Regions from separate parts of the Homo sapiens genome. Here region 1 is linked to region 2. The links come from fine-mapping of genetic effects on plasma protein levels. A gene starts in region 2. The other region holds a variant in brackets. All regions are shown on one strand. Distances are between the middles of the regions.

Evidence for each region. PIP is the chance, under the fine-mapping model, that this variant and not a neighbour inherited with it causes the effect. Protein levels are from the aptamer-based SomaScan assay of Sun 2018.
Region 1: its variant is fine-mapped to the plasma level of the SEMA6A protein (Sun 2018, PIP 0.95).

The regions. Positions count from the first base shown.
Region 1 is chr5:116,440,762-116,455,593 of GRCh38, reverse strand. It overlaps SEMA6A (semaphorin 6A), which reads left to right. Exons shown (of 19, transcript NM_020796.5): 19 at 7,783-12,039. The coding sequence ends at 8,981. SEMA6A-AS1 (SEMA6A antisense RNA 1) reads right to left here and starts at 8,096. Exons shown (of 3, transcript NR_109879.1): 1 at 7,803-8,096; 2 at 5,777-5,966. RefSeq lists a silencer at 811-890. The variant G/A (reference allele first, on the strand shown) is at 11,317.
Region 2 is chr5:116,567,159-116,582,254 of GRCh38, reverse strand. SEMA6A (semaphorin 6A) reads left to right here and starts at 7,432. Exons shown (of 19, transcript NM_020796.5): 1 at 7,432-8,070. SEMA6A-AS2 (SEMA6A antisense RNA 2) reads right to left here and starts at 7,837. Exons shown (of 3, transcript NR_147170.1): 1 at 7,716-7,837. RefSeq lists enhancers at 3,467-4,100, 4,101-4,736, 9,374-10,155 and a silencer at 7,597-7,676.

The DNA of each region.
Region 1 (14,832 bases), 130 kb after region 2:
TTTTAAGGAGGTCCACTTCTCCATTTTGTGGCTTTGATGCCTTTTGAGAGAGTAAAGGAAAAAGATGGGACCAGGAAGTTGGAAAATAGAAATGCTTTGTCTGGTTTTAGAAATCACTTAGATGTTGTGTTTCTCGTCTTATTTAAGAAAGCTGATGAAAGAAAACTTCAAAAAGCAGGAAAATACGCCTTGCAGACTCTGCTAAAACTTTGCCAATGTAAAAGAATCATTACCTTTACGGGGACAGTAACAGTTCTAACACATGAAACCACAAACCAGCATTCCAGGGCATGGCTTTTAAAAATTATCTTATCATGACTCTTAGTCTAGACATCAGCCCGTGCTCTGGCTGTAGCACTCCCATTGGCAATGCCATTTCTAAAGCAGTAGAGCAGTGGAGGAACAGTGAACTGAGCGTTCCCAGCACACAGGGAAAAATGAAGCTGTTTCTTCTCTAAAAAAATGAAATAGAATGAATTCCAGGCTCATTCTCCCTTCTATCCCTGTGATGACATCCCAACCAAAAATGCATCACTTTTAAAGGTGATCGAAGTGGAAGTGGGTTCATCTACAGTCAACCACTCCAAGCATTATTTCAATATGTGAGTTTTAAAATAGCTTCTGAATTCAGGACATTAAACAGCCAGGCCAGGAAGCTACCTCCACTTTGGCATGGTCAGTCATTAACTTTATATATCTTGAAGACCATGGCCCCTCCTGGTACCTAATCTGTAGCCTGCCAGGAAAAACACATACATACACACACACGCGCACACACACATGCACACACACACACACACACACTTAAAGGAAAAGGAAACTTTAAGTTATAAACTCCAAGCCTATTTCCATGGCTGCTGGCATGTCAGTTTATTCCTAAGCCATCTGGTTCACATTATGCCGTAAGACAAGAAGAAGGCTGCTTCCTGCCCAGATAACCACAGAGAGTTCCCATTTCACTTTCAGCGTGGTCACCTCGACTGGCTGGGGTGTGGCTTTGAGAATAAATTGTCTCCAGTTAGGGTTTTTCCCTTGTTTGTTTTCTTCTCTTCTTAATAGGGATTACAGCGGGCCCTGTGTGGTTAGCGGGGCGATGCTTGGCTAGTGATTAGTTCATTCATTTATACTGTCTTGCAGGACCGTGAGCCTGGAATTTTGTTGCAGTAAGATTTGCAAACAAGAAAAATTGGGCTGTTAGATTCCATTCACTCAAGTTGTTATGAGGATTTCAAGGAAATTGTAGGCTTGTCTTACTATAAAGCAGAATCAAGAATCTATTTTTAGGGGATGCTACTCCGGGGCTTTTCTTGGTGTTTTGCCATCTTTCTTAGCTCTCAGACCCAACACAAACCCTCTCTGGCTCAGTGATGGAGGAAATGTCCATCCTCCTTTTTGCCTTTGCATATTTCTCTAAAGGACACAGAGAGGCTTTGTTGTCTTTGTGGTCACCGGGTCCACTTTACACAGATGCCTATTAATCACTTCACTATGGAGACAGACACATCCATCATATCACAGCAGCTCAGAAACGGGCCGTCCAGTGAAAGGGGGTGAGAGGGGAAAGTGCACACTTAACCATTTCGAGTTAGGTTACTGGTTGCCTGTGTCTTACACGCTTAGGGTGGTAATTGGGGTGGGGGTGAGTAGAGCTCTTCCTTTGTATTTAGCTTAATAGGTGTGATTAATTTTACGTATTTTTGCTTGTCTGTTTGCTTCACATTTTGATAGGACAGATAACATCTCCCAGCTATTTGTGTAAGGTGCAGGGCATTAGTATACTTTAAGATTGAGAGTTTTAATTTTAAAAACAGTAATAATAAATGCAGGTAGACTAGCTGTGCTTTTGATGCAATGATACTGACTCTTTGAAGCCAAGAGTTTTGCGATAATGGATTCAATGTGGAACAGAGCAAGCCGAAAGTTAGCTTTCTCAGGCAAGAGAAACTGCAGATAAATTAACCAAGAACTTTCCTTCTATGAGTGGCAGATCTTCTAAACCTCTTTTTTAATCATTCAAGGCTGTCCACAGCCTTCCAAATGGTATTTCTAGCTCTTGCTCTTGTATTTTCTCTACAAGTGCTCATTCATGTATGCATTCCTTTACTATTTATTTAAAAGATATTTACTGAGCACCTTTCTGCCTGAAGATTCAGTGGTGAGTTTTAGCAGTCTAGGTGAGAAAAACAAGTATCATACTAGTGATGATTTTAGAATAAAGGGAATGCAGAGCTCTGGGGACACTTTAGAAGGAAGAACTTAACTGGCCTAAGGAGTCAGAGAAGGCTTCCCCATTTAAGCTGAGCCCTAAAGATAGGGTCTGATGAGTGGGAAAATGAGTAGGGACATTCCAGGCAGAGAGAACAGCCTGTATGAGAGCCATGAAGCAAGCTTGAGTATGGAAGGGTGGCTCATGCCTCCAGCCTAACAGACTAGAAGGGAGTTAGACCATTTGCTATTACTCACTACGGCCTTCCCTTTCCTTCCCTCCAAGGCTCAGTTCTTGTTGCTCTCTCTGCTCCAGCTAAGATCCTGTGCATCTTTAAGGCTTAGCTCAAATGCCATTTCCAATGTAAAGCTTTTGCCCACTGTTGAAGCAGAAGTGATGTAACTCATGACATAGCCACACTTTGGACAGAGTTGTATGCAAGCACTTGCCTTCTTCCCTGCTGGTTTATGCCTCATTCATCATTGTCCTTCCCCGACACCTAGTGCAGTGCTTGGTAAATGTTTGCTGAAGGCAGCCACAAAGATGCTTGGAGCCAAAACCTTGTTATACTAGGAGAGTGATAATAAAGAAACAACCCAACCCTAAGTTAGGGGAAAACATCATTTCTAAAGCAAATTGTCTCAGAGCCTGGTGCTAGGTTCCCTTTGCACGGAATAGTATCCATGAGCAGGACTACTAGAAAACATTTTTTAAAATAAGGAATGTAGTGTTTGATATTTCAAAATTTATTAACATGGTCATCATAGGAAAAGTCAGAATTGTATTGGGCTTCCTCTTAGTTTTCAGTTTACAATTGTTCTTATTTTGAATCACATGTTGCAGGGTCTAGGGGCAGGGTCCTTCATAATCTTTTCATTGCTTTGGACTCTAAAGAACTTCAAATTTCCTCTCTGAGGTCTCCCTCCAGCATCTGAAAACTCTCACCTCAGGAAAAAAAAAAAAAAACAGTGGAGATTCTATTCTTTCTCAGTTCTGCCAATTTAAGACATGATTTCAGAGAAATCTCTAAGCCAGGGTGTGCCTTGCTTCCTGCAATAGGAAGGTGGAAAGACTAACCATTTAGCACCTTATGACTGGTGAGAAATAGCTGGTGGTTAATGAATCAATGCAAAGGATTTTTCAAATACTGTTTTCATTACTAATGCCCCATTTTCAATTGGTAAGAGCAGAAGAGGATGCAGGGGTTGGCAGAGGAAGGAATTTCAAGACCCTAGGGTAGAGAAGCCAACTCTGATTGTTCTCTCTGCAGTGGGAGGATACCTGCGGAGGGGAGTACACCACCCTCCAAGGGCCCTTTACTTGCCCAGGGCTTCCAGGCAGCATCTGAAGCAAGGGATACTCAGCTCTAGCCTGTTGCCCTTTGCCCTTTGCCCTTTGCAGAGATGCATTTTTTTTTTTTCTAATTATTCAGTTCCACTGGGGCACTCTGTTGTTGTAAATAACCCATTTATCGTCATCGACTCTTTTGGATTTTTCCCAGAACTAATTTCATTTTTGAAATAGTTTCTCTTCTTATTGTTTTGAGCAAATACTGAGCACCATTATAGATTTATTTTTGTTTGTCTGATAGATGCTACTATTAAAATTCTTTTATATGATTGGAGATAGAATTTATTTCCATGACTTCAAAAGCAAGGGTGATAGTCACTCTAAAGATTACCTCCCAAGTTTAGAAGTTCATTTAAAAATAGCTCTACAATGTATTGAAAACCCATTTATTCAGCCATCATTTGTTGAGTTACCCAACTAAGAGCTCTGTGGATGGCAAGGGTTATAAATGCCGAAAAAATGTGGTACTTGCCCAGGATTTGCACTCCACTGAGAATCCAACTATAATTGCCAACATTTTCCACTTCTGTTGTTTTAATTATTTCAAAATTCAGTAACTATAGGCATCCTGAAACAGTATGCATTCCCTTATATTGCTTCGAAATCTCATATCACCTTTTTGACTACATTTAGAAGGCACGAAGTTTGGACCTGGAAGCACAGGTCTACTCCTCTCCCATGGGAGACCAATAGCAAATGGAATCCAATGGAGCAGCTGCGACTATCACTTGGAAGCCCTCTGTGAGCCACTAACCCACCACTTCTCCTTTGTGGCTTCTTTTGAGCTTTAGATTTGTCCAGCAAACTACAGCATTTAAGCTCTTTCCTATTTTTTATTTCCTTTGATTCTTGTAACAATCCAGTAAGGCAGTAAGATTAGGTGTGTTCACCTCATGCTACAGATAAAAAAACTGAGGCCCAGAGATGTTAAGTCACTTGCCAAAAGGTCACCCAGCCAGTAAGTGGGAGCCTGCAATTCCAAGCCCACTGAGATCTTCTCTAGCTGCTTTTATCACCACTACTGACAAGTCTGCTGTTTCCAAGCCTTCACAATGGCTATTCCACAAAGTTGACTTGATCATTTCTGTGAATGCTTCTTTGGCCTTTTTCATGATATAAGCAGAAAGCTTTAAGTTTGAAAGGCATTTCCAAAAATAACGTTTACCTTATCTTCTTCAACTGCACTTTCAACTTACTCTCTGATCTGTTTCCATCTTTGGACGTTTCTGAATTTACACAAGCAGATGAGGAAAGCCCTCTGCCTCCCCATGGATAGATGAAGACATGCAAAAATGTTTTTAAGGCCACTCTTTATATAACAAAATGAGACGGGGGAAAAAATCTGTCTGAGATACCATTTTCCTGAAAGGTCAGATCCTACTTAACTTGTTAACAACCAAAAACCTGAACTCAAATATCATCCACTAAAAAAGAGTTCTTCCCAGTGAAAGAATAAGTAGCTTTCATGAGTCTAAAATAGCCAAGGACCTTCAGACATGAAAGAAGAATGATATTTGGGAGCTAAAAGTAAGGCTAAGAAGCAATGGATACATGTGAAAAATTTGCAGTTTTCCCAGTGAAACCAATGAATTGCTCTAGCTTTACTCTTTCCACGTTCCTTTTAAACTGAGAGGGCAGTTTAAATTGTAGAATGCCAAAGTCAATTGTAAATAGCTTCCTATTATAATACACATTTATTGGGAATATCCAGTCCCCCTAAATTTGGTAGCCTGGAAGGGTTTCATGAAATACTCATTGCCATGAAAAAAACACCTAATACACCCCCACCCCATTACTGGGGCCGTCTAGCCTGTGTTCAACTCCCACTGAAATCACCAAGTCAATGAGAGAAATTAAAACCATTTTATCCACAGGTGTACATTTTTGTGCAATTATATGTAGGGGGTTAAAAACGGTGTTCGGTAGAACCCCATACATAATCAAAATTGAAGAAAAATCAGTAGCTATTTTAGCATAATAAGGAAATGCAAATTTAAGAAAGAAAATTTTCATTAGCACATTTCCTTGGTGAATAGGTACTAAAATATATTTGAATGCAGGACACCCCACTGTTTGGGGAGCTTCACACATAAAAGGTGTGAGTTACAGCCAAATTTCCGGCTGTTTTTTGCTTCTCAGTTTCTACCCCTTAAAAGCTGATGGAGATAAATCTGGAAATATTTGAAAAGTATCACATTTGAAAATTATTTGATATCTTACCGTCTTGTACACTCTTTCCTTATGGTGAATTGCCTTGACTGCCTTTTATTACCAAGGGTATTTGTTGGATCACAGAATCTTTATTTCTTAAGAGATATTTGCTGCTTCTACTTAAGTCACAATCCTTTGTCACAGGACAATCATTTCCACAGCAACCAACTGTGATGTCACAATTGAAGGGAGGAGGACCCTTAGGAAGGAAAGAAAAAGAGAATGTACTTTTCAGGCTAAGGTTTCTGGGTTTTAAAACCATCACTTCAGAAATCAAAATATTTTAGCAGAAAAACCCCCATGAGAAAGCTTCAAGGTCTCGGCTGTGACAAAGACAACATTTCAGTAGAAGTTTAAGGTTGCGTGTTGTGGGCTTGGGAAGGGGTAGAGATCTTTATTTCCTTTCATTCTAATTCTGTGCCACTGATACCTGCCAGTAAAATACATGAAACATATTCCAGAAAGAGTTGATTTAGTAGATGAAAAATGCGTCTCCCGAGACCAGAGAAGGTACCTTTTCTGTCTTGCTATCATTTCCATAATAGGAACAATGTTTACATTTCCTCAGCCCATGCAGTGCCTCTAATGTATTCATGTTCTTTCACTCTCCAGAGGCAGGAATTGAGGTATTAGAGATTTTATTTTTTAGCGACTGCATCAAGCACTTAAGATCTGACAACTGTGATGTGTATTCTCACTTGGTATTAAAAAATAAAAGCTTCTGTGTTTGCATTTGATTAGAGTCACTCAGCTGGGTGGCTGATTAAGCAGGAATAGCGAAAGCACCTTCCTTCAGAAACACTGAATCCTGGTTAATGTAGTGTAAGATTACGGATGGGTGTAGTCACATAATTTTTATTAAATTGAAGAGATTAGCTCTGCTGAAAAATCCCACTGTGACAGCAAACTCTAGGTGCAATAATGGTACCTAACACTTCTCAAACCCACTACAGGGCCCCAAATGGTCTTATTTCTGAATCTTCTTTCAGTTCCAGTGAGAAAGCTTCATTCAAATATTCAGGATAGTTACCTGAAATTGAGTTTGCACTGTTTTTTTTTTTTTTTTTTTTTGAGAGGTGATGCAAAATCAGCACAAACATTTGTAGTCTGTGAACTTTAGCTATATTCTCTCAGTGTAAATAAAAATGACACACACTCTCTTTCCTCTAGTTGCTTAAAAGGCAAACACTTTTCCCCAGACGGAGGCTCCGGTGGCCACAAGGGGGCCGTCGGAAAAGATCCCAACTGGAAGCCCAGAGTGTGTGATTTGTTTGTCTAACATGCATAAAATTGTTGCCTCTTCCTCCAGACTCAGGATAACTTGGTTATCCCAGTTCTAGGAAGGGAAGGTTAAAAAGCCATAAAGAAGGAAAGAAAGATAACTTTTGAAAGCCAAAACCTCCCATATTCCCTGGAGTGAAGCAGAGTAGAAAGTGCAGGTACTGGAAAGAGTGAACAGCACTTTTCTTTCTTTCTTTTTTTGAAACGGAGTCTCGCTCTGTCACCCAGGCTGGAGTACAGTGGCCTGATCTCCCTTCACTGCAACCTCCACCTCCCAGGTTCAAACAATTCTCTACCTCAGCCTCCGGAGTACCTAGGATCACAAGCCCCCGCCACCGCGCCTGGCTAATTTTTTTTTTTTTTTTTTTTTTTTTTAGTAGAGACGGGGGTTTCACCATCTTGGCCAGGCTGGTCTTCAACTCCTGACCTCGTGATCCACCCGCCTCGGCCTCCCAAAGTGCTGGGATTACAGGCGTGAGTCACCGTGCCCGGCCTGAACAGCACTTTTTTAGACAACAAAGAAGGCTACAAATGGAGTCCATTTACATACTGCACACGAGGGGCTTGGGGAGGATTAATTGGTTAATGTTTGGCAAGCTGAGCTTGGAAGACAAGTTGTGCAGAGGTGCTGTTGTCACTTACTACTGTTATTAATTAACAAGGTGAATGCCAAGCAAAAACAAGCCTCGGGGTGTGCTTTCATTTCTTAACGCCATATGCGATGTCTATTGCAGGAGTGATTCGGGAAAGTTACCTCAAAGGCCACGACCAGCTGGTTCCCGTCACCCTCTTGGCCATTGCAGTCATCCTGGCTTTCGTCATGGGGGCCGTCTTCTCGGGCATCACCGTCTACTGCGTCTGTGATCATCGGCGCAAAGACGTGGCTGTGGTGCAGCGCAAGGAGAAGGAGCTCACCCACTCGCGCCGGGGCTCCATGAGCAGCGTCACCAAGCTCAGCGGCCTCTTTGGGGACACTCAATCCAAAGACCCAAAGCCGGAGGCCATCCTCACGCCACTCATGCACAACGGCAAGCTCGCCACTCCCGGCAACACGGCCAAGATGCTCATTAAAGCAGACCAGCACCACCTGGACCTGACGGCCCTCCCCACCCCAGAGTCAACCCCAACGCTGCAGCAGAAGCGGAAGCCCAGCCGCGGCAGCCGCGAGTGGGAGAGGAACCAGAACCTCATCAATGCCTGCACAAAGGACATGCCCCCCATGGGCTCCCCTGTGATTCCCACGGACCTGCCCCTGCGGGCCTCCCCCAGCCACATCCCCAGCGTGGTGGTCCTGCCCATCACGCAGCAGGGCTACCAGCATGAGTACGTGGACCAGCCCAAAATGAGCGAGGTGGCCCAGATGGCGCTGGAGGACCAGGCCGCCACACTGGAGTATAAGACCATCAAGGAACATCTCAGCAGCAAGAGTCCCAACCATGGGGTGAACCTTGTGGAGAACCTGGACAGCCTGCCCCCCAAAGTTCCACAGCGGGAGGCCTCCCTGGGTCCCCCGGGAGCCTCCCTGTCTCAGACCGGTCTAAGCAAGCGGCTGGAAATGCACCACTCCTCTTCCTACGGGGTTGACTATAAGAGGAGCTACCCCACGAACTCGCTCACGAGAAGCCACCAGGCCACCACTCTCAAAAGAAACAACACTAACTCCTCCAATTCCTCTCACCTCTCCAGAAACCAGAGCTTTGGCAGGGGAGACAACCCGCCGCCCGCCCCGCAGAGGGTGGACTCCATCCAGGTGCACAGCTCCCAGCCATCTGGCCAGGCCGTGACTGTCTCGAGGCAGCCCAGCCTCAACGCCTACAACTCACTGACAAGGTCGGGGCTGAAGCGTACGCCCTCGCTAAAGCCGGACGTACCCCCCAAACCATCCTTTGCTCCCCTTTCCACATCCATGAAGCCCAATGATGCGTGTACATAATCCCAGGGGGAGGGGGTCAGGTGTCGAACCAGCAGGCAAGGCGAGGTGCCCGCTCAGCTCAGCAAGGTTCTCAACTGCCTCGAGTACCCACCAGACCAAGAAGGCCTGCGGCAGAGCCGAGGACGCTGGGTCCTCCTCTCTGGGACACAGGGGTACTCACGAAAACTGGGCCGCGTGGTTTGGTGAAGGTTTGCAACGGCGGGGACTCACCTTCATTCTCTTCCTTCACTTTCCCCCACACCCTACAACAGGTCGGACCCACAAAAGACTTCAGTTATCATCACAAACATGAGCCAAAAGCACATACCTACCCCATCCCCCACCCCCACACACACACACACACACACATGCACACAACACATACACACACACGCACAGAGGTGAACAGAAACTGAAACATTTTGTCCACAACTTCACGGGACGTGGCCAGACTGGGTTTGCGTTCCAACCTGCAAAACACAAATACATTTTTTAAAATCAAGAAAATTTAAAAAGACAAAAAAAAAAGAATTCATTGATAATTCTAACTCAGACTTTAACAATGGCAGAAGTTTACTATGCGCAAATACTGTGAAATGCCCGCCAGTGTTACAGCTTTCTGTTGCAGCAGATAAATGCCATGTTGGGCAACTATGTCATAGATTTCTGCTCCTCCTCTCTTTTAATGAAATAACGTGACCGTTAACGCAAGTAACTCTTTATTTATTGTTCACCCTTTTTTTCCTTAAGGAAAGGACTCTTCCAAATATCATCCTATGAACAGCTCTTCAGAAAGCCCATTGAAAGTTAAACTATTTAACGTGAAATCCATTAACTGGAATAATTGAGTTTCTTTATTTTTACAATAAATTCACTGAGTAAATAAGTTGGAGCTGGAATTCTGAGCTTTGTGTTTGGACTGTCTGGTCTGTAGCTAAAGGAAAAAGTTAGGAGGGGAATATTTATTTAAATCTATCAGTTCATTGCCTGGTCAGGTCTCTGGCCTATAAACATGCAAAAAAACTAATTCATGTTAAAGTCCTTCCAGATCCTAATTTCTAAAGCAATCAGGAGAGAAAGCTTTTAGAATGGCACATCATATCTCATTGATGCCAACATGGTTTTGTCCATGGTTCTGACTTTCTGTGAAGGCACCAGCTTGCAATATGCCATCCCATTTCACCTTGCATGTGAGACAGCAAACAAAATCCACAAATGGTGTGAACTAATATGCTGGCTGCTACCTTGCATAAATTAATGATTTGATCACACGGGTTCTTCGTGGGGTTACATCTGTGAATAGCCTGTTTTCCACATGTAAATTTGTGCCTTACACCTTGAGTTGTGTACACTTGTAAACTCTTTATGATCAACTGTTCCCCCTTTTGAAATAAGTGCAGATATTTATTTAACCCTCCCTTCCCCACCCTCTGCCCCACTTCCAGCCCTCTGAAAGATTGGAGTCAAGCAGATGGAAGAATGCAGTGGTGATAGTTGTCATGCGACAGCCTGAGAACGCTGGGCAGCACCACACCCTCCAATTCACACTGCCTTCTAGTTGTGCCAACTGGAACCACCCTTTGGCTGTGCTGCGAAGCATGGACCCCAGTGTTGTTGTGGGTGTGTCAAATCCCCTTTCATCCTCAAGAGCTCCCTGCTTCCCTTAGATTATTTCAATACGGTGATATCCTTATTTGCTAGCAGAAAAGGGACTAACGTCCCATTCCTCTTTTCTGCTGCGTCCACTGGCTAGAGAGCAGGCGGTGCGCGGTTGGGCAGACACCTGGGAGGAGTCTCCAAGCCATGTGCACAGCACACACGTGCAGTGCACACAAAGAAATGACATGGAAATAGATGCAGGCAGGCTGGTCCCTGCTGTGATTAACGAGTAACTCCAAGTACAAGGCCGACCACAATGGATGCTGCAAAAACGTTGACTGGGGCAAAGGATTTTTTATTTTATTTTTTATTTTGTTAATTATGTTTTTAGGGGATGGGAGGTGGTGTGTGTTTTTCTCCTCTTGGTTTTCATTTGCTCAAGCACACAAAAGGGACTTTTGTTTACTCTATCATGAACAAAGGAACTGTCCACATACTGTAAACCATGAGCAGTGTTGTTGTTGTTTTTTTAAACAGTATATTTGGTGGTCTCTTTGTCTGCTTTTATTTCCAGTTCGATCTTCTGGGTTTAGTTTTGTCTTTAAAAAGAATTCAAAAAAAGACTGACAATGACAGTTTTGAGTTGGATAGTGAAAAAGTGGAGCCTCCATAATCAGTGTGGTTGCCTTCAGACCTGAGTACTTAGCTGAGGGTGGGTGAGAGCCCTTTGTTCCAAAAGTCCATTAGTTTTGCTGTT[G/A]TTTAGGAGTAGGTGGTTGTTGTTGTTTTTACTTTTTTTTTTTTTGGCTTTTGTAATGGAATCCATGTTCACATCCTGTGAACTCTGTCTCCTGAAACCCTGAAGTATTTCCTAGAACCTGAAATATTGTTTTCTTCCTTGAATTTTCTCTAGAAATGCAGAAATTAGGAAGGTGATGGGTCTGTATCCCCCTGCCCCCTTCTTTCCCATGCTTGACTCCCGAGAGTACTGGCAGTGCAGCACCCATCATTGACGTAAGCGGCTGTCTTGTCCAGTGTTTGTAGGCATCACTGCCTCAGCTGTTAAGGAGACCTGTGTCAAAACTTACATCCACATTCCTACACCCCCACAACCCATCACTTCTGGTGTTAACCCTAAAATACCCACATGTATTGAGCTGGTCTTCTGCATTTAAGTATTTCTCCCCAGTTTTTTTCCCCACTGTGTGTGGGGGGAGGGTCCATAAACCCGAGTGTGCCTTTGCTTTCCACCCTTGCTAGACACTGGTAGATGCAACAAACTCAGATTTATATTTGTTGTAAAGTTGTAAAAATATTGTGATGTCACCAATTTTCCTTCCATCTCCACATCCCCTAACATCTGATTCACGACTTAATGTATGTTGTAAGAAAAGAAAAAAGAAAAGAAAAAAAGGGAAAAAAGAAAAGCAAGGAAAAGGCTCTTTATTACTTAAAAGTAATAAAACCTGACTGTTCTATATTATCTTTTGTGTCCTGAATGCTTTTATTTATCTCTTAATTTTTCCTTTTTAAGCTGCTCTCCTCCCCACCCTTTGTGGGTATGATGCTACTCTTTCCTCCATTTGTATCTGGCTTCCAAAGCATACATAACGGTATAGTTTGATGTATTTGTTTGCAGTGTCCACACCCAGCCACCCCCACCCAAATTATTGACGTGTTTCTCTGCTCAAACCCAGCCTGGAGCAGGATTTTAGCAGAAGCCACCGGTAATTAAAAAGCAGAGCATGCATTGGCTCCTTCTATTCATTTTATGCATTTTCTTTTTATGGGCTTGTTCATCATCAAACATTTATGGTAGGCTTGATAGTTTAAGAGATCAAGGCTAGGATTTTAGTATGTAGGGTCCACTAAAAATAGATCCTTGCACAGATGTGACTTCAGTCTTCTTACATATTAATAAGGTGGAGGGGGCTGGATTTTACTCCTTGTTAGCATTTATCTTTTGTAACACAGAGGGTATATTGGAGGTATATTGGGACACAGCCTTTGATTTTTCTTTGGCAAAAAGAGCATTATTTTGCAAAAAGAGCATTATTTCTTTTGCAAAAGAGCATTATGAAATGCCTAGGTCAGGTTTTCCTCTAGGGGTGTTTTTAAAACAATTATTTAAATAAGTCTTCAGCTACAGTATTTTACTTTTGACCCTCTGAAATTTTTTTTTTTTTTTTTTGATGCTTTAAGTCAGTTGAGTGTGGGAAGCTGCAGGTTGAGGCCTCAGTTCATACCTATAGTGGCCCAGTAACCTTTAGATTGCCATCTCCAATTGTGTTTCTTGAATTACATCCATAGCGCCTGGCACAAAGTTGACTAGAATATAGTTTCTACCTCCTCATTTGCAAAGAGAGACCGACATGGCCCTTGTAGTTGCCATTTGGAGGTACGAACAAAGTACTGATGAAGCTCCCTAGAGGTTAGGGTAACAATATTTGTGCTGGTTCTTAAAGAACAAGTTTTCTGAACAACTAGCTCAGGCAGAGGGGACATCCTTTGCAAAGGCACCAAGTGTGCTCTTTGGGAAACAAAAGGTTCAGCAGGCCTTGTGCAGGATCTGTGAGAGCTTGGCAGGGCAAGTCTGGGAAAGGGTGGTTGGAGACAGGCCAGGAGGGACCTGGTTCCCATATGCTAGGAATTTAGCTGAAGCAGTGGAGTGCTCCCTTGCTTTGGAGTAAATAAAACAACAGACACCGTTTGTGCTTGGGAAAGCTACCTGGCCATAATGTGGGAAGTGAATTGGCCTAGAGAGGGACTGCAGGCCAGCTGGGCAGTGTGCCAGATGGCATGCCAAGTGGGTGAGAGCAACACAAGTGAAAACCGCACATCCAATTTCAGATGCAAAAAGGAACAGTCACAGAGCTGAGTCCTTTTTGCCAGAAAGAACTTCCACTGTATGTAATTGACAGGTTAGCCCTGCCCGGTTATACCCAAATGTCTTATCTAGAACTGACAGAATGGCCAACCTCTAGTATGACCCTTTCATTTTAAAAATGGGGGAAGCTTTGCGAGGCCGAGGTGGGCGGATCACGAGGTCAGGAGATCGAGACCATCCTGGCCAACATGGTGAAACCCCGCCTCTACTAAAAGGCAAAATTTAGCCAGGCGTGGTAGCGTGTGCCTGGAGTCCCAGCTACTCAGGAGACTGAGGCAGGGGACTCACTTGAACCCTGCAGGCGGAGGCTGCAGTGAGCCAAGATCGTGCCACTGCACTCCAGCCTGGCAACAGAGCAGACTCCATCTCAAAAAAAAACAAAAAAACAAAAAACTGGGGGAAGTTGAGGTCCACTGAGTGAAAGGATTTGCTCATGCTCCAAAACTAGTGGTAGAGCAGCTATTCTGAAGACAAATTCATGGTCTCTTTCCCCAATTCATTCAGATCAGTAGAGCAATACTAGCTAGAAAGACTTGATCCTGCTCACCCATCTAGACAGCATCTGCATCTTTCTCAGTCATCCTTTCTCACAGGAAGCCCTTCATACACACCCACCCTTCACAAGCTGGGCTTCCTAGATCCCCTCATTTGGGTCAAGGCATGGGGTTGGAAAAAAGCTTGGATCACATGGGCTTGAGGTATAAAGTCCCTGCAGTGCAACCTGATACTTGATCTGGTGGCTTTTGCTGCAGTCAGCTTTGTTCTGGGCTGCTGAAGAGGTGAAAGAGGCTGAACAGGTGCAGCCAGTATTTTAGCTGGGGCCCCCCGGATGTCCCTGCTCAGACACGAAAACTGCCTCAGACAACCCTGATTTTTAATTGTGTTTGCTTGCTAGCTTGATTGTTACAAGGTTTTTAGACTGTTTCTCCAAAGCAGTGGCTGTCCTGATGCAGCTACCAGGCTAGGTGTTTCATGGAATCAGAGATGACATCTTGGACCTGAATGTTTTCCTAAAGGCCCATGTCAGATAAACACAAACTGGTCTCATTGTTCAGCCTTGTAATTTGGCAGAAGCCAAATAAGATGCTCCTGGACCCCAGCACCTAGGTTTTACTGCCTGAACAAAAGCTCTTTCAACAAAAAGTCATTCAGCAAGTAAAAGTGTCAGAAAAGCACCTCTAATTTCAGACACTGGTACATTTTGCTTGAGGGGAAGTGGTGAGGGGAATTTAAAAGAACGCTTTAGTAACAAAATAACATGATTAAGAGCATAATCCTTTTCCTGGCTCAGCCCTGTGACAGCTGGGTGCTTGGACTCAGTAACTCTTAGAAACCCGCATCTCTCCCTTGTCTTGAAACCAGGTGATGACTTGTCTCTTGTACAGAAGT
Region 2 (15,096 bases):
TACCTTATTTCTCATCTAACATTCTCTTAATTTCCCAAACAATAATTTGATATCAGAAGTGAATGGAGACAAACTCCACTGTGGTACAGTGGAATGATTGTTATACACAGGGTGGGGTCCCACCATGAAGCTATTCATGGAGGGGCAGACAGTAAATCACTGTTAGCAAACTCTAGCTTGCTGGGAGAGCTGGTCCTTGGAGATGCTCTGACATTGTTCCCAGTGAATTCAAATTGCAGTTTATCTCCTTCCACAAGCCTTCTAGAGTTCTATTTATATTCTTATTGCATCTTATTTTTAAGCATCTTGTTTTTGAAATTGTTATATTTACTCGTCACTTTCATCCATAAATCTTTTTCTCCCCATTCAAAAAGCAAATTAGACACGTTATAGTCGAAATTCTGTGTTGGGAGAAAGCCTAGATTTTGTTTATCCTTAGAACTGGAATCTCAAAATCTGAAGAGCATGATATATGTCTAGAGTTTTTTTTTTCCCCTTTTCCTTTTTAAATGGTCCTATTCCATCCAAGGATCTATTCCTTATCCTACTGAATCCTTGAAAAGGAACTAATTGCTTTCACTAACTCATGCCCTCACTTATGTACCCTTACTCTCAGTTAAGTGCTGGAGATACAAGATAAATGACAGAGATATAGTCCGAAGACTTGAGAAACTTGTGATCTAACAGGAAAGAGAAGCATTCAACAAATAATTGCACCAAATATTAATACTAGCTGTAATGTCTGATATGCACTATGAGGTAAATTCACAGGGTACTTTGAGAATACATAATGGAGAATATGATCTATTCTAGACTATCAGGGAAGTCTTGTTGGAGGCAGGGACATTGAAGGATGAGTAGAGGTTAGTCTGGTAAACAGGGAGAGGGGAAGTTCCAGTATTCCAGGCAGGAGCACAAGGGCAGGCCTGTAGTTACAAACAAGAAACATGGAGCTTTCCAGGAACTGAAACACCAGTGATGCTGCAAGAAAGGGAGACAGTGATGGGAGCACGGCAGAAATGAGACCAGAGAGGTAGGCAAGAAACTAATCATGCACAATGTTAAGGCTGTATTAGGGTTTAGGGGTGTCTATGGATGCCTCTGAGGTGTTTTAAGAGAGGCTTGATGTGATCAGATGTGCATCTCTCAAAGATCACTTAGACTACAATCTGGAGAATGAATAAGAGGACAAGAGAGAATAGAATTTAATGTTAATTTGGGAGAAAAAGCAACCAAAAATATTACTATATATTGGTTACAGATACATATGGTATATGTGAAAGTACAGAAACAAAATGTAAGGATGCACAGAAAACTCATAATATCATTACTTATAAAAAAAGAAAATGAGAGTAAGAAAGAGATGTTGATGATGAGGAAGTTAAGTTTTATCCACCATGTTTTATTTCTTAAAATACAGACAGTAAACAAAAATGACAAAATATTAACAGTCATTAATTCTGAGTAATGAAAATTGGGATGTTGGTTATATTATTCTTTGACAATGTTTCAATTTCCTCAAAAGAAAAACTAAGTTAAAAAAAAAGTGAGAGGAGTACCAAGAGAGAGTAGTGTGTCATCAAAGCCAAGAGCAGAGAGTATGTCACAAGAAACAATTGTTGCTGATAATTCAAATAAAATGAAAACGTTAAAATACCCACTGTATTTACTGTCATGAATGTCACTGAAGACTAGCAAAAGGGGATTGAGTAGATGAAAGAGGACGAAGTGGCAGCACTGGTTATCAACAATCTCTGGGGCTGTCTGGCTTTGGAAGAGAGGAGAGAAGAGAGTAGCTTGAAAGAAATGGGATCCAAGGTGGGCTGTTTCTTTATCTTTTTCTTTTTCTTTCTGAGACGGAGTCTCGCTCCGTCGCCCAGGCTGGAGTGCAGTGGTGCAATCTCGGCTCACTGCAACCTCCACCTCCCAAGTTCACGCCATTCTCCTGCCTCAGCCTCCTGAGTAGCTGGGACTATAGGCGCCTGCCACCATGCCCGGCTAATTTTTTTGTATTTTTAGTAGAGATGGGATTTCACCGTGTTAGCCAGGATGGTCTTGATTTCCTGACCTCGTGATCCGTCTGCCTCGGCCTCCCAAAGTGCTGGGTTTACAGGCGTGAGCCACCACACCCGGCGACCAAGGCGGACTGTTTCTAAGATGGGAAAGACCGAAGCTTGCTTACATGCTGATGGGCAGATGCAGGAGAGGGTCTGGAGACAATAGGACAGAATTTCTGAGAACCTGTGAATTATTGGGAACATAAGGAGGGACTGGCCTCCTACTGGAGGAGGGACACTGCCTCCTTCATAAGAAGAGACACTTAGAAAATAATGAGTACAGGCCGGGCACAGTGGCTAACGCCTGTAAGCCCAGCATTTTGGGAGGTCAAGACGAGTGGATCACCTGCAGTCAGGAGTTCGAGACCAGCCTGGCCAAAGTGGTGAAACCCCGTCTCTACTAAAAATACAAAAATTAGCCGGGCATGGTGGCAGGTGCCTGCAATCCCAGCTACTTGGGAGGCTGAGGCAGGAGAATCGCTTGAACCAGGAGGCAGAGGTTGCAGTGAGCCAAGATTGTGCCATTGCACTCCAGCCTGGGCAACAAGAGTTAAACTCCATCTAGAAAGAAAAGAAAAGAGAAGAGAAGGAAAAGAAAAGAAAAGAAAAGAAAGAAAGGAAAAGAAAAAGAAAGGAAAGAAAAGAAAGTAAAGAGAGAAAGAAAGAAAGAAAGAAAGAAAAAATAATGAGTACAGAAGCAAAAATGTTCCCTTCTGATGGACTGCGTTTTTTTCAGGGAAGTACGAGGTATGAAGTGTGAGATATCTGATTACGGGGAGAAAGTTAGAAACGAACTGAGATAAGGCGGTGCTTTGGATGAGATTGAGGTTGATAACAATCTATCTACATTTTTTTTTCCAGCAGGCTTCAGCTGCCCAGTTCAGAAGCAGAGACGGCTGATGTTTACATACTTCAGAACTAGCTTTTAGTCAGATAGATGTTGACCAAAGATAGAGGAGCAACAGAATTGAAAGTATTTGCAAGAGAGAGGGACTGATACTATGAAGCTATGCTAGACATAGAGAGGAATGAAATAAGGAGGGAATAGGTGATCGAGAGAGAAGCAAAACTCAAAATCTGGAGGTCCTCAAGAAATCAGTGAATGCAGGGGGGTGCATGAGCAAGGAAGATTGAAGGAGAAGAAGTGATTGGAAAGCAGGATGTCAGAATTAGTGATTTGGAAGATGGGGCATTTTTGATAATAAGGCCCAGAATGAAGCCTGGAGTAGGTGGAGGAGGGGAGTAGAAAGACAGCATAGATGAGGAAGGCAAGAAATGGAAAAGCCAGAGGGTCAGTGGTTATATGGATGTTAACACTACCATGAGTCATGACAGGTGGAGGGACACATAGGAGGACAATAAGTCTTTGAAGAATCGGATAAAATGAGACCACAAATGTATTTGTAGAGTTTAGCTACCAAAGTCAGCCAGAGGTTTTTAGAGGAGGAGAAATGGCCTGAAAGCAGCATGAGGAGCAAGGATACGGACCTTTCTTTGTGAAGAGGAATAAACGGACAAGAAGAAGAAACAGCCCCCACAAGAAAAAGGCTAGGGAAAAGTAATTGGTCTAGAATACAGCCAGGATTTATTGTGGCAGTGGTTCTCATCCCTGGCTGCAAATGAGAATCATCTATGGAGTTTTAAAACCTACCCATGCCGAGGTCCCAGTCCTTACTGATGAATGAGAATCTTGAGCTTGGGGATTTGCATCACTGAAGAGCTCCCCTGGTCATCTAATGTGCAAGTGGATTTTAAAACCACTGACTTAAGGCAAAGAGGTGGAGGGAACTTTGGAGAAGGGGCTGAGGGTACAGATAGATTTCTTGATTATAAATTATAATGGCCTGAATGTACAAACTGTGCTCCCCAAGTGTGCCCCCATGAACCCTCAAGGAACTGTGAGTAGCAGCAGCCCCTTCTTCTCCCAAGTTCATTACTCCTTTTTGTCTCAAAGCAGAGATTCTGATCAAACAGCTAGATGTGGTCTTTGCAGAGAACCTGAGTTTATCTTTCTGCTTTATTTTAATCTTCCGCCACACTTTTCCAGGTGATCTGAGGAAAGCGGGAACTGTCATGTAGTTAACAAGGGCAGGGGGTGGCTGGGCGCGGTGGCTCACGCCTGTAATCCCAGCACTTTGGGAGGCTGAGGCGGGCGGATCACGAGGTCAGGACATCGAGACCATCCTGGCTAACACGGTGAAACCCCATCTCTACTAAAAATACAAAAAAATTAGCCAGGCGTGGTGGCAGGCACCTGTGGTCCCAGCTACTCGGGAGGCTGAGGAGAGAGAATGGCGTGAACCCGGGAAGCGGAGCTTGCAGTGAGCTGAGATTGCGCCACTGCACTCCAGCCTGGGCAACAGAGCAAGACTCCGTCTCAAAAATTGAAAAAAAAAAAAAGAAGAAGAAGGGGAGGGGGAGTTGTTACAGGTAGCTCCCAGCCCTGACCCAATCGCTGACACAGGTCAAGCCACTTCTGTCCGCTGTGCTTCCATGTGACTCCTGTAAAATGTGATGGTAGGACTGATGTGGAGGATGGCAAGGATGACAATGTGACACTTAATCTTTATAAAGCAGTGTCAGCCTTAGACTCCGAATTTACGAAGATCATCTAATGTAATCCACGAGCTCCTCGGGAAGTGAGTAGAATAAGAATCCCCATTTACAGGTGAATCCACTGGGACTTCACAGAGATAAGTGACTTGCCCAAGATCACCAGCTAAGTTACATTAACCGCAGATGGCCTCCAGAGACCAGGGCCTCAAACACTCCATTTTACGTCACTTTAAAAAAAACCACTGAAGTCACCTTCTCATCACTCTGTGATTCTTTAACTCTTTGGCTTTCTTTTCCTGAAGGGACAGGGTATAAATTGCAGACTTCAAAGGCTTTGAAGGGGCAGTGGTTTTACTGAAAACTTACTGCAGGCTTCTGGAAGTGAGTCTGAGGCGCACTTATGGGGAAATGACATCATGAGGTTTCATAGCCTGGCTTCCCCACAGGTGCTCCCCTGGGGGTTTCGGGAGCCTGACAATAGCTGGCTTTTCTTCCAGCTCCGGGAGCATCTTTTCTGGCAGGTGGAAATGTAATATCACGTGGTCAGAAGGAAGGGCTCCTACTTGGATGGTGAGACTAGGATCTAGTAATTGCCAGGAAGATTCTGGGTGGTATTTCTTCACTGTGAAAAGTAGACTCCAATTCTTTAACTCTCGTATTCTATAATTTTAAATTAGGTAAATTTAATCGCTCGCTTCTTGGCTCAGCGTTACTACAAATTAAACATGCAAGTATTAATATTGAATATAATGTCCCTTTAAACAATATCCTGAAACTCGTTGTGGGGCATTTCCAATATATCCATAAAGCAAATAAAACAACTTAATTGTTTGTTTCTCTAAGGGAAGGAGCTAAACCCGAAATTAATTTAGTTCGGCCTGTGAAACAATTCGTTTGCTCTGCCTAATTCTGCCAATTTAAGAACTTTTCCCAGACACAATTAGCATGTAAATCGGCGGCGGGGAGCGAAGAAGGAGCCTCGGCGACCCCGGTTGGGTGGAGCGCGGGACAAAAAACCCCGGAGGCCGAAGGGTCCGGAGCTTCGAAGGGGCTGCAGTACCGCGCCTGGGGCGCACGGACGAGCCAGGGGACCAGCTCACACTGACCCTGCAGTCATCAGCCAAAATCTGGGTGTTAAATAGCGCAGCCGGGGATCCAGCCGTCTTGGCCGCCAGATCCTTCTCCTAACCCCGCGGGATTCTGAGGAGACGTCCTGGAGCCGGCCCCCACCCAACCCGCGGGAAAGCGCAATCCTACCCACCGCCCCACACTCCCCAACCCCCTCCCGAGGCTGGCTCTTGAAGCCGCGGGGGCTGCGCGCGCACCTAGGGCCGCGCCCCCCACTACCCCAGGTCTATAGAGGCCTTTGCCCGAGAAAGGTGGGGATAGCGGCCCCTGCTGACAGCTCTGGAGAACAGCAGGGGTACTGATTTTTTCTTTTTTTCCTACCATTCTCCCTACCTTTTCCAGGTGGTGGTAGTGGTGCGGGGGGAATGGGTGTTGACCCATGTGCATTTATTCTTCGTGAAGCCTCTTAAGCAGATGTCTGTACTTAGAGAAGCGACCAAAGAGGGAACGTGGACTTATTAGTGGTCTTAGTCCCAATTAGGGAACAGGTACAGTTTCCAATATAAAGAAACTCGGCCTAAGTGGGACTGAGACCCCGATCTCCGCACTTGCTTTTCTCAGCCAACTCCATGACTAGTAAATATCTCTCCGAGAACTGCTGGGCCGCCCGATGTTACTTTGTTTAAAGGTTGCGACTAGGATCCGTACCATCTGCGAAGCCCCCTTGGGGAGCAAGAGCCGCGGCGCGCAGTTGATTTCGGGGCGCAGCGGCAGGGGGAGGGGAACGTGGTGTGGCCCGACGAGTTGGCACAAGCCTGTAACTGCAAGACTTTGTAGCTATTGAAAGTTCAAGTGGTGAAAGAAGGCTGTGCCTGCCATTCTTCATGTGATCATAACAATAGCGCCTTGGAAGTGGTTGCGATTTTCTTCTTCCATAAACCTTTTGGGTTCTCACTGGAATTGTATGCGTGTTATTTCTGAAGTTTACTTATTTCTAAGACCAGTCCACAAAATGTGAACTTCATTAAGTTTTAAAATAGATCGCCGTCGTTAAAAACGCCATTCTCTGCACTGTAGTTTATTTGCTTACTTCACATGCTTTATTAACGTGTGTATGTGCGTAATTAATAGCTGTGTTCTTATCTTCCAAGTGTATTTTTAACCGCACCGGCTTCTATCCAATTCATCTAACTACGTAGAGCGTCCATCGCTTCTGGAATCTACCTCTTGATAACAGTAATCAGAATCAGAAAAGCTCGCCGTTCACTTACCCTCATCCTTTAAAACTTTTCCATTTAAGAAAATCGATGAACAAAACCTTTCTTGTAACTCGCTCCTGCACTACGTCTATTTTTATTTATTTTTCTGATTTGGCAGGACTCAGCAATGCTGTCCGGGATTTTTTTTTTCTTTTTTTTTTTCCTAGCTAGAGCAGATGTGGGGGTGGGGGAGGTGAGGGCTGGGCTCCAGCCAGAGTCGCCCCCGCTGAGCCTCCGCCTAGCGCGCGGTGGGGCCAGGAATCCTGGTGGAAGGAAGCGGCGCTGGCCAGTTGGTCCAAGGCTCCACCTGCAGCCACACCGCGTAGTTTCTCCGCCTCTGCCTCGCTCACTCGCACTCACATACACCACAGCTCTCCTTTGGGTCGGAGGAGACGCCAGCCAAAGTAGGCGGAGTTGCGGAAGGAGAGTCCGATCTGCGCAATCCAGTCCGGGACTTGGCTCCGCCCGGGAGCGGCGGCCTCTCCGGTGACAGAGGAGTAGTGAGCGGCACGGGGTGAGGCTGCAGCCAACTCCGCTCCCCGCGCACTCGGCTGCCCAGGCGCTCGGAACCCAGCAGCGGCGCTCCTCCGCGGTGCCGGTCGCCCGCGATGCCCGCTTAGCAGCGTGTAGCAGCGGCCAGCATCACCACACCCGCGGCACCGCGCTGCCGGCCGCAGAGCCGGGCCAGAGCCTTGCACCCCTGCCCCAGCCCCCACCCCGCCCCCCGCCCTGAAATGACTTGTTAATCGGCGCAGACACCACCAAGGGGACTCACCGAAGTGGAATCCAAGTGGAATTTGGATTTGGAGAAGAGTTTCTTGAACATTTACCCTCTTCCTTGTTGGTTTTCTTTTTCTTTTTCTTCTTTTTTTTTTTGGCTTCTTTTTTCCTCTCCCCTTCTCCGCTCGTCATTGGAGATGAACACATCGCGTTTGCATCCCAGAAAGTAGTCGCCGCGACTATTTCCCCCAAAGAGACAAGCACACATGTAGGAATGACAAAGGCTTGCGAAGGAGAGAGCGCAGCCCGCGGCCCGGAGAGATCCCCTCGATAATGGATTACTAAATGGGATACACGCTGTACCAGTTCGCTCCGAGCCCCGGCCGCCTGTCCGTCGATGCACCGAAAAGGTACGCCCCGGGCGCCCGGGCGCGCCCCACCTCCCGGGCAGCTGGACTCCAGCCTGAGGGTCCCGGGGCCGTGGCTAGCGCGTGCTGTCGGCTTTGTGGTGCCTGCGTTTTATTTTGTCTTGTGTCTCTGTTTCCCGAGCCTTGCCCGGTCCTGGGGGAGCAGCCGTGAGCCCTGCCTGCCTTTCCTCTCTGCCCTGCGCCCCAGAGTGCGTCCGGCTCCACGTCGAGAGCTTTCCCACCCGCGTTGCGCACACGCCCGGCGCCGCCCCGGGCCGCGACGGCGCGTATGGCTGTTCCTCCTGGGGGTGTGTGTGCGAGACCCAAGGCTCATCCTCCCGCGTGCCCAGCAGGGAGCAGAGCGGGCCCTAAATGGTGGGATTCTCGGAAGCTCCCTGGCCCGGTGTGTCGAAGGCAGGGGAAGGGGTTCTGCCCTCGAGGGCTGGAGGGGGTTGGGTATAACAGCGCTGTTTTCGTCCAGTGCCAGGTGGGAGAAGGGGTTCCGCGGAGACGGTGTGGAAGCGGAGAGAATCTTTTGTTGTCAGTGTGGGGTCTGGGCTGGGCTCCGTGGAGTGCAAGAAACTTGTAATGGCTCTAGGCACCCGCGCGCCCTGTCTCTCGGTGAGATCCTGGCTCCTGTGGCCGCTGCCACCAGAGGTTCCGGGCTTTGTTTGCTCGAATAAGTGTCCGGGAGCAGCCGTTCGGGTGACGCGGCGCCCCCGCCATGGGTCCTGTCCCCCGCCGCAGCTCCCAACCCGAGCGGCAAGGATATAGCCCGTCGCGGCTGCGTCCCTCCTGAAGCACCGAGCCCTTTGCACCGGGCTGGCGCACGGTACGCCCTCCTCCCAGATCAGCGCGGTCTCGCTCTGGAAAGATGACCCAGGAGGGGGAAGGGTGAGAGACCTGGCAGAAGATGGCCCTGGGTTTGAAACCCAGACTAGGGCTCTGTTCCGACTCCTCACTGTGTCCTAGGGCGCTACCATGGGGGCAATGGGGCGCTGGAGAGTAAGCCGGGCAGTGCCCACCCACCCTGCCTGATCCTTCTGGGGCGGGAAGTGTCTCTTGTCCCGATTCTCCGCGTTTTGCTCAGCTCCTCGCTGTGGGAGATGGTGCAAAACAGGATCCTGAGGTCTCCTCCCTCCTCGCAAGACCCGAGCGGCACGGGGGGAGCCAGGGAGCGGTCCCGGGCTTGTGGACGTCGGGAAAGGAAACAGAATTCCGCTGTTTTTCCCGCTCCCTCGCCGCCCCTCCGCCCAGCGCCTCCTCCCACTTTACAGCGGCGGGGTCACTAGACCAGGCGCTCCTGGAAAGTTTCCCTGAAAGCCAGGGGCGGCAGGCACGACCGGACTGGGGCTCAGCATGTGCAGTCTGAGGGAAGCCGGACCTGGAGGGAATCATGCGGACAGCTCGGGATGCAGCTAGGAGCTAGATCCCGGCCCTTTGGAGAGTGGAACCTCCTGGCCCGCGGTACTTGCTCGACAAGTCGGGGAAGGGATGAATGGGGAAGCAGGACCCCGGAGGCAGGTGCGGCCACTGTGGACAGAGGCTGTGGGGAAGGTGCGTGTGGACACAGGCCGGGGCTCAGTGGCTTGCAAGTAGGCAGCTTCAGGTGCAGAATCCCGAGCCATCTGCTCCCTGCGCACGATTTCCCAGCGTGGCTATCCAGGGAGGGAGGAAGCAGAGCCAGGTGTGCGTGGAGCGGGAGAGGAATGGGAGACTGGAGGCGCTGTCTTCACAGCCGGGGCAAGCACTTCCAGGGAGTCTCCGGCCTGTATCGCACTGGGGAGCCCTGCAGGCTTTTTCGCGTCGGTCTTTGGGAGAAAGGTGGCTGCTTTGGAACTGCGGTGGCCAGGCACAGCCACAGTGGGATCGCTCCTTTTTTTACGCTCAGCTTTTTTACGCTACTGAATGCGATCTGTGAAAGGTTTAAAACACAGGCGTGCATGGACACACACACGCACACACTCGCCCTTGTACGCACAACTTTCTTTACCTCAGATCTGAAAAGCCGTTTAACCCACTTGCAGTGTTGTGCCAGCAGGTCTCAGAAAAGCTATTTAATGCCCCCCAGCGCTGGTTTTTAAGTCTTGCCAGGATGGGAAGGTCGAGTGCCTTTGCCTTGTCTTTCTTTAGTCCTGAAATTGTTCGTCGTCCTTCCCCTGGTGGACACATCTTGGGCATCAAGTCTGTGGTATGCTACAGTGATGGCGGGGAGGACTGGTGGTTTAATTAATTATTTAATTATGTTTTCTCCCCAAAGTAAAGATGCCTATGTTTAATTCTGACTAAAAATACTCTACACTTTTTTATACCGTACCCAAATGGCTACCAGCGGTCAAGATTGCAAGAATTTTGTATGACTTTTTAATGCTGTGTTTAGTCTACATGGAGCAGTTTTATGATTTACAGTAAGCTTTGATTAAACTACTCCAGGCACCAAAGTTAATTATTAACCTAACCTTAAATACAGTGGCAGAACTATGTCTCCACCTATTAACCTAAACTATCTATTAAAAAATAATTGCACTAGCTATTTGAATTTGGTTTACCCATGCTTGTTTGTATGGTAACTTTTATTTGAATCTTGAGTAACCCTTACTCCCTGTTATTATTTTGGTTTTGGGACGTTCTTGAATGAGGCACTTTGCAAACCAGTTTAAAGCAGAAAAGAACGAACATCAAATTTAAAATCTTACTTTTGGTTATGAGTCATTTTTCAACTTGATGTAAAGAAGCATTCTACTTTATGTTTCTGATGTACAGTGTTTGTGGGTGACAACCTTCCCCATATGTTAGGTTTTGCAGCTATCACCTTTTAGAGATGTGCTACATTTTCAATAACGCATATAATCCACATATGTAAATGTTAAGCAGATACCGAAAATCATTTCTGAGGAGCCATCAGCTGAATATACTTATTGGACATAACAACTAAGCTTAAATAGGTAAAAATTTTATAAGAACCAGTATAGAACACTCAAGTAAATGTCGAATGAATGAAATAAATAGTCACACATGGTTCATGTTTGTCCACTTAAAGTGGACTTCTTTATTTTCCCTACAGTGAAAAAAAAAATATATGCCTTCAAGTGAGTGGTTATGATAAGGCGGCAATAAGTGCACCTTTTTATTTACACACAACACACACCCCTCAAGTTCTTCCAAAATCTAGTAAATGCTTTTTCCAACATTAAACACATATAGCAGTTGTATTTTGAGTAGGCGGGTAACATTGCACTAGTGAAGTCTAATGTGTTGAATCAGAAGTGTAGCAAGAATTAGGAAGACTGTTATCTTCACCAAATAAAAATGAGGCATCCAAATTAAGAACTTGTATTAAATTCAAAATAAGTAGTTATGCTTTAAAAGTAAATGGGTAGTTGCACTCCTATATGAAATGGAAGGAAAAATACTATTTTGAACCAGGAGTTAAGTCAGATAGTTTATTCTGTGTACATTGTGGTTCAGCGCTTTTCAGAACAGGACAAAAGAGTGATGATGGGATGAAAGTTTTTTTAGAACTAGATTGCCAAGAGCTAATATAGTCTCTCCATCTTATTTGTTTGCAGGAAGGAATCACAGAACAAGCTAAGCTAATTGCAAATGCTTTAATTAAGCATCTGCCATTTGTGTAAGGCAATGCCTAGGAAAGCCTATCTCTGCACTGCCCCTCTCCACACCCTTCTTTAGGTTTAGACAATTTTCTGTCCTCCTAGAGTAGAGGAGTGCTCCTTGACATATTTATATAGAAGCTTTGTGTTATGGCAGCCACATTTGTGCATGTTGAGGAAGGTGATGCCTTGAGGCGTTCTGCTGGGCCCTCCCATATCAGGAACCCCCCCCACTCTCTTGGGGTGCCTTGGAGCCAAGTTTTCTCTGAGATATTTCTATTTCAGCGTGAAGGCTTTTCTCATCTGCTTTAAAATGTGCTGCAAGAGCAACTGAGCTATTCTCTGCTGGCGACCACATGGTTGCCTCTTGGGGATATGGTAAGATAGAGAAAGGAGGGAGGCATTTAATCCCTTCGAAATGGGCAAATGAGATGTCATACCACACAAACCTCAAGGGGAGGAGTTCAGGACAACTTCTCACCATGGGACTACTGCATATAGTCTATACACAAGGGTATCTTGCTTTGTGAAACAGATGAGCTCTTGCAAAACTTTATTACAATAATTCCATTTACACCAATAGAGGGTATCATATAAAACCATAATACACAGATGATTCCCAAATAACCTCTTCAGCTTAGACCTCTCTCCTGGACCTCACAAATAACCAATGCTTAGTGGGTAGGTAGCTCCTCCTGAATAGACATCTCAAACTTAGGTTTAAAAAACCTAATTCTGTATCTTTCTCCCCCATATCTGCCTTTCTCATAGTCTTCTCCATCATAGTAAATGGCAACTCCATTCTTTGAGTTGCCGGCCCCCAAATTTAGTTCTCCTTGAAGCTTCTCTGTCACACCTACATCCATTGTGGCTGCAATGCTGTTGGCTCCACCTTTGGAATACCTGCAGGCTTCCTTCAGGTGTTCCTCCTCTGTGGCCCTCAAATTGGCCAAGCCATGGTCCTCTCCTGCTAGGTTTTCATGCCAGCTTCCCCACTAGCATTCCTGCCTCTGCCCATTTCTCAACACAGCAGCCAAAACACAGCAGTGATTTTTTTTTTAAACTAAACCAGATCAGATCACTACTTTGCTCAGATGTTTTCCCATCTTCTTCCAATAAAAGCCAAAGTCCTTCCTATGGCCTTTGCAGCCCCACATGATCTGCACTCAGGTTCCAACCTCTCTGACCTCCACCCCTTGGGCTTGCTTGAATCTGTCAAGCATGGCATATACTTGGGGTCCTTTGCAAGGACTTACTCTTTCATGCCTTGGGATGGTTCTTTCCCCAGATAGCTACATGATTTGCTTCTCATATTCTTCAGGTCTCTGTTCAAATGTCACTTTCTCAGTGAAGCCTTTTGATCCCCTTATTTACTTTACTCTTTCCCACAGCACTCCCCACCTCTTGGCAGTCCTTATTTTTTTCTTAGCATTTTTCACAGTCTGACAAACTATATGTTGTCCTTGTTGATTTTCTGTCTTCCACTAGAACATAATGCCATAAGGATAGACATTTTTAGGCTTTATTCACTCTGGCACCTAAAGCTGTGCCTGGCACATCATGGGCCATCCATAACAAGTGTTTGCTGAATGAATAAACAGTGAATCATTTTTGCAAACAACTAGTCTTTATTTTATCTATTTTGTCTGCCTTTGTTTTTCTATATCATGTTTTTATCAAATGAGATACTTCATGCATGCATGTGTGTGTGTGTACTTCATGCATGAATGTGTGTGTGTGTGTGTGTGTGTGTGTACAATCTTCCAAGCACATAGGTGGTATGGCTCATGCATCATTAGTGGAACATTCACTGTGTTGTTTTTCCAGTGGTAGTGATGGATTGGAGCCTGTTCATTCCCACATTCTCACCCAGTCCCCTCCTGTGTCCAAGAGCACACATCTGTGAGACACCTGGTTGTAGCTGGAGGGAGTCTGAGTTAGGTAAAATCAACTTGCCAAGAAACAGAGCTAAGAAGACAGCCAGCATTTGTGGGGATTGAGCTTTTGACCCTGGCCTCATTTGTTCTGCATTCTAACCACTGGCCATAGAACGTTCATGTTTTTTTGGAGTTTGCTAATAGTAGTTTTAAAATTCAACTTTCTATCAGGAGAATACAGCATACTTTATTAACCCATGTTTCTGCCCTGTACCCGTACAGTATATCTGCTGTTGAGGATCCTGCACTTGGAGACAAGAAGACCTGAGTTCCAGACTCTCACTACCTTGGACAAGTCACTTAACTTCTCTGTGGCTGCATTATTTTAATTGAAAATTATAAATAGTAAACCTATTCTTCCTAACTTATAGGATTACTGGGAAAATAATACGAAATCATGAATGTGAATGTATTTAGTGAAATATTACACGCATTGTGGAAATTTGGGAAGTTTGATGTTAACCCCCTCTTTCCCACTCTGGACCCTGGATATAACAGAGATCCTACTTCATCTTCTAAATTATTTTTGGTAGAATATACACTGTTCATGTAGTTTTAATGTAAATCACATTATGCAACTAAATAATATGTTCAAATTCATTGAAATTGTACAGTTCACCTAGAGCATGGATAGCAACTTTATTAATTAGAACACCTACCATGTCAAGGAAACATTGCTTTCAACATTATCATTAAATCAGGCAAGGTCATAGGAGTACCATTCTGCCAGGAATTAGTTTAAAAGTAAGATAATTGTTTTTGCTCAGTTAAATTCTGAAATAGTTCAAATCAGTGTAACGATTAATATGTCAGGGTGAACCAGGACTAGTAGAAGTTTCCATCTTTGTCATAACAAGGCCGAATTCGTTAGATCTTGTGGCGTGAGGTTAATAAATGTGAAGGGACCGTTGGAGGGAAGGTAGTGGACAACTCTAGAGGCATTGCGGAGGTCATGCTTTTTTGACAGACAATGCACGTGGATTTGTTTTGCCATTTACCAACAGTGTGACTTTATGCCAGTTTCCTTTCTCCTTCAGTTTTCATTTGCAAAGTGCTAGTATGATGATAATGTTATGGTTTTGAGAAGAATAAATGTGCTAACATCTGTAAAATGCATGTCACAATGCCGGGCACACAACAAGCAGTCATTCAACATAAGGTATTATTTTTACTTGAGTAACAGTAGTTACGAAAAATGTCCTAGGAATGGATTTTGAAAAAGCAGATAGTACTTTTATTCTGGGGGGCAGGGGAAATAGTAGAAAAGGAAATGGCTACGAATCTGTAATATAAAGAGATGATGCAAAAGAAAACAACCTTTGGACTAGAAACAAACATTCATACCATAAACAGGCCATAATGTCATGGGTTTTAAGTTGAGAAGCATGTGAATACATCACTTGCAGGGAAACAGGAAACAGGGAAACTTTGGAATTTGAAATATCACACCCAAAACATGGAAGGAAAAAACCACTATATAT